Regions from separate parts of the Homo sapiens genome. Here region 1 is linked to region 2. A link means that fine-mapping ties the variant in region 2 to the expression of a gene that starts in the linked region. Tissue or cell type: whole blood. Region 2 holds a variant in brackets; the other region holds the start of a gene. All regions are shown on one strand. Distances are between the middles of the regions.

What was found. PIP is the estimated chance that this variant, and not a neighbour inherited with it, causes the effect.
Region 1: SCAP starts here. The variant in region 2 is fine-mapped to the expression of SCAP in whole blood (TOPMed, PIP above 0.99).

Annotation. Positions count from the first base shown.
Region 1 is chr3:47,474,428-47,477,171 of GRCh38, reverse strand. It overlaps SCAP (SREBF chaperone), which reads left to right and starts at 1,231. Exons shown (of 23, transcript NM_012235.4): 1 at 1,231-1,373. LOC105377073 (a long non-coding RNA gene) reads right to left here and starts at 1,227. Exons shown (of 3, transcript XR_940821.3): 1 at 808-1,227; 2 at 470-530. RefSeq lists a silencer at 1,144-1,683.
Region 2 is chr3:47,090,888-47,093,387 of GRCh38, reverse strand. The region is part of intron 9 of SETD2 (SET domain containing 2, histone lysine methyltransferase); the gene reads left to right. Among named protein-coding and RNA genes, the nearest start is that of SETD2, 72 kb to the left of the region's middle. The variant A/G (reference allele first, on the strand shown) is at 1,261.

The sequences.
Region 1 (2,744 bases), 380 kb before region 2:
GTTACTTTCATTGTGACAATAGTGTGGTGGGCAAGGAGGGAGGCCAGAGTCCGGTGGGAACTGGGTTTTAGGAGGAGGTATCTGAAGAATGTGTAGTGGGTCGGGGGCTGGTGCGGTCAGAAGGGCCACCTCTAATTTCTGCCTTGCATTGGTGACTAGATCTGCACTTTCTGGAACTCCCAGAGAAGTTTGCTGGTGCCTTTGAGGGCAGGTACAGGGCCTGCCTTATCCAGGTAGCCCTGGGGTGGGTGCGGGTGTCTCGGGCAGTAGGCAGGGGCTGAGGGGAGGCTTACCTCTGACACAAGACCTGGGTACAGCAAGGGCATGCAGTAGCATGATCAAAGTCCCCCCAGAGTGGTCCGGGCAGCGTCTCTAGTTGGGCCAGAGCTGGGCAGGTGGGGACCTGTGTTTCCCTCGAGGGGAGGCAGCCTCCCCTTCCCCTTCTGTGAGGCCCTGTAACAAGACCTACCTCGGATTTTCAGGAGGGCCAAATGCGAGGACATGTACAATACCAGCTCCGCAACTGACACCTAGTAAACAGTGAACGTAGCTGTTGCTATTATAACAAATACCTGTTCCCTGTGGAAAATGGTTAAATGTCAACTTATGCTTTTAAATGTCTATAGGGAAACTAGTTTTATGGACATTATTTATTCTTCTCATCTGCATTTGCAGTGTATCTCGGCCCAGCTGCTTCTAATTTTTTGCCATTATAAAACAGGGAACATGAGCATCTTGTGCAGGGTGGGTTTTTTGTTTTTTGTCTCACTGTGGCCTCGACCTCCCGGGCTCAGGTGATCCTCCTACCTCAGCCTCCTGAGTAGCTGGGACCACAGGTGCGCGCCACCACAGCCGGCTAATTAATTTTACTTGTGGAGACGGAGGTCTCCTACGTTGCCCAAGTTGGTCTCTAACTCCTCGGCTCAAGCGATCTTCGCGCCTTGGACTCCCACAGTGTTGGGATTACAACCGCGAGCCACCGTGCCCGGCTTTCTGCAAGTTCTTGATGACCGATGAGAGCCGGTGGGCCCAAACCCGGCGGGCCCTAACCCGGCTTCACGCTCCGCCCGGCCCGGCCCGGCCCGGCCGTCCATACTTCCCTCCGGTGTCCACCAGAGGGCGAACGGGAGACGCGAATGTGGTTCGACTACGCATGCGCACGCCGCTGGGCGCACGTGCGGAGGGCGGCGGGGCGGGAGGGTAAAGGTAGGAGGTGAGAGGTGAAGGGGCGGGCACCCGGCGGCCAGGAGAGAGAGGGAGGGCGCCACGCACCGGACTGCGGGCCGAGAGCGCGCACGCCGCGCTCCGCCCCTGCTGCCGCCCCCGTCGCCGCCGCCGCCGCCGCCGCAGCTTGGGAGGTGCTGCCACCACAGGTACCGTCACGCGGGTGCTCAGGGCGCCTGCCCGCGGGCCCCAGCTCGACCCCAGCCGCGTGGAGCTGGGAGTTCCGGAATGGGGGCCGCTAGGTTCGGGGGTGCGTGGGCATGGCGCTGTCCAGCAGCCGTGCGGGCCGGCCCTGGAGACCGCAGGCCGGCAAGGAGGCAGGGCCGCGCGTCCCCACCCCCAACCCGGCCGTGTCCCTGCACCGGCCGGCCCCTGGAGCTCCGCGTCCCCACCAGACCTCCGCGGGCCCCTGGTGTGACGGGGGGAGATGCGCGGCGTCGCATCCCCTGGCCTAGTTGCTCCGGGAAGCTGTTGTAGAACCTGCTTTGGTGCTGTTTGGGTTTTCCGGAGTGCGGGGGAGAGCAGGTTCTCCACTTTGCCTCTTTTGGAAGATCTTATTGAGAGACAACGCTAGTTGCTTTGCTGGTTTTGCTTGGTTTCTAGTTTTCCGTATTGCTTAAACCTCAACTTTGCTCACTAATGTTGCTTCTGTTTACTTCTGAGTGGGTTTATGACCTCAGTATTTAACCGGCTTATAATGTCACGATAGCGTTAGTTGCAGGGAGCCCTGGCTCCGGACTGTTTGAATCACAGAAAGTTGTGCAGATGGGAATGCGGAGGGGGGGGCAGTGAGTCGCTGTGGGGGCTCTGGCAGGGGTCAGCCCCTGGTTCGGGTCACTCACTGCTCCACCTTGTATGGCGACAGTCGGAGCTAGGTGAATAAACTCTTTCTGGGGATTTTGTAATACTTATCGTGAAGCGGCCATAGAAAAGGTTTAATGTTAGCGTTGCGTGTGTTTCTTTTATTTGGCCAAAAATTTGTGGAGTTTGGTTATGCCGTGTCTTTATTGGTTTGCTGTCAGGTCAGGATATTGAGCAAAAGACTGACGCTTTTATTAGGGAGTCAGGGTCGAGGGTGTCTAGTTAGTGCTGTATCCATTTTAGGTGTTCCTCAGTGATGCCTAAAGACTTGTTTTTTGTTTGTTTGTTTGGAGACAGGGTCTCACTCTGTCTCCCAGGCTGGAGTGCAGTGGCGCGATCTCGGCTCACTGCAGCCTTGATTTCCTGGGCTCAGGTGATCCTCCCACCTCAGCCTCCCCAGTAGCTGGGACAGCAGGTGTGTGCCACCACGCCCGGCTAATTTTTGTATTTTTTTGTAGAGATGGGGGTCTTGCTGTGTTGCCCAGGCTGGTCTTTAACTCCTGGGCTCAAGCATTATACAAGCCTTGGCCTCCCAAAGTGTTGGTATTACAGGCGTGAACCACCGTGCCCGGCCAAGACCTGTATCTTTTAAAATGTGTGTTAATATAGTTTACATTTTAGGTGTTTTACACATTTGCAGTATTCCCACTGAGCACATG
Region 2 (2,500 bases):
TGCTTGAACCCAGGAGATGGAGGTTGCAGTGAGCTGACATGATGCCACTGCACTCCTACCTGGGCGACAGAGTGAAGCTCAGTCTCAAAAAAAAAAAAAAAAAGGATGGATAAATTATAAAAGAAATAGTCATGAAAATAAACTGGCTGCATACAGTAACATGGATAACTCTTAAAATGTAAGGTTGAGTGAAAGAAGCATGACAAAATATTTTGTCCAGTATGATTTCATTTCCATAAAGATAGACAAAATTTTATATACCTATGTAACAAACCTGCATGTTCTTGCACATGTATCCCAGAACTTAAAGTAAAATTAAAGTAATTAGGGAGCAAGGACAAGAGTGAACCTTTCATTTCTAATAAAGTTAGCTTCCATCACTTAAAAAAAATTAATATTTAGGAATTTGCATATGGATAGTAAACCTATAAAGAAAATTGAAGACCTATTTCTTAAAATGTTAGGATAAGTTATCTCCAAAGCATAGGAAGGGTTGCTGTTATAACCAGGAAGGGGTAGGTACATGGGGCACTACAGGAATGCTAGCAGTATTCTGTTTTTTAAACTTACCTGGATGGTGGCTGTATGGGTGTTGCTCACCTGTTTATTAAACCTATTTACTAATTGTTTTTATATATTTCTGTCTATATGTGTATTCTGCATACTGTATGTTGTATTCCATCAAGAAGTATTTAAAATGCTACTTAGACCCCTTAGTGCCACAAATATTCAAGTATTAAAAAATAGTATCTTGCAATGATTAGGTACTTAATACATTTTCAAGTACTATAGAATTGTGCATATATATGCACTATATATAGTAAATATATACTATCTATAAATTACAGATAAATATATAATGTATAAATATATATTTAATATATATAAATTTTCAGTTTATCAATAATTTAAAAATACACCCTAATCATTCTTACATTTATGTTTACTTTTAGTTACTTACCTCATATTCTTGGATGATGTTGACCCATACATAAAATCTAAGACTTTTAATAAATGTAATTTAATTGAAAGGAAGGGAGACAAACTCAGTCTTCCCACCTCTGTCTCCCAGGTACCCTAAAAGTTATTGCACAATTGATTGCTATGCTTGAGCACCCAAAATTAGGGAAGCTGTATTATCACCACTGGAATTGGCATGCATTTATGTGTATGTGTGTTACAGTATAACCGCTGAGGAATGTTCAAGGGTTATTCATCTTTATTTTGTTTGCAAAACTTAATTTATACTGCAGTTTCTGC[A/G]TTTTTACGGTTTATTTTTCTTTAGTTAGAACGTGATTTTCTTTATATCCTGGAAATGCCTTACACAATATCTATTCAATAAATGTTATTGAATGAATGTAAATAACATAATTTAGAGTTTTTAAACAGTCATAACATGCCTAATTTTAAAAAGAAAATACCTCTTTTTTTTTGTTTGTTTTTAAGAGAGTATTTTGCTCTGTCACCCAGGCTGGAGTGCTGTGGCATGATCTTAGCTCATTGCAACCTCCGCCTCCCAAGTTCAAGTGATTCTCCTGCCTCAGCCATCAGAGTAGCTGGGATTACAGATGTGCATCACCACACCTGGCTAATTTTTATTTTATTTTATTTATTTATTTATTTTTGAGACAGAGTCTTGCTCTGTCGCCCAGGCTAGAGTACAGTGGCACGATCTTGGCTCACTGTAACCTCCGCCTCCCGCGCTGAAGTGATTCTCCTGCCACAGCCTCCTGAGTAGCTGTGATTTTAGGCACCTGCCATCATGCCCGGCTAATTTTTGTATTTTTAGTAGAGACTGGGTTTCACCGTGTTGGCCAGGCTGGTCTTGAACTCCTGACCTTAGGTGATCCACCCACCTTGGCCTCCCAAAGTGCTGGGATTACAGGCGTGAGCCACCGTGCCTGGCCTAATTTTTGTATTTTTAGTAGAAATGGGGTTTTACCATGTTTGCCAGGCTGGTCCCGAACTCCTGGCCTCAGGTGATCTGTCCGCCTTGGCCTCTCAAGTGCTGGGATTACAGGTGTGAGCCACTGTGTCTGGCTGAAAATATCTCATTTTTTAGCCCTGTGAATATTTTCGTCTCAAAAATCTGTCAAAAGCAGTATTCTGGCTGTTACAGTTGAGGGGGAAAGTAGAATTTTAAAGCCCTTGAACTCATCTAATACCGTAGAATTTGGGACACAGGAAGGCTTACATTTAGGATATGCAAGGAAAAGATATCTTTAATGAAATTGTCTTTCTTGGATTAAGACAACTTTAAATTGGTTTTTCTGTTCATGTATTTACTCAAAAACTTAAGTGGTATTGGAAATGAAAAAGAATGAGCCTTAAATGTACATTTTAGAAAGAAAAATGGGTTTGAGTTTCTACAACCTCTCTCAGGCAGCACTTTATTTTTTCTCATTTATTCTTGTTCTTTACCAGAATGTGAATTTTTGGGTACAATATGAAATAAAAATGTTCAGTGCCTTGCCTGAAATTATATTAAGGGATAAATAGC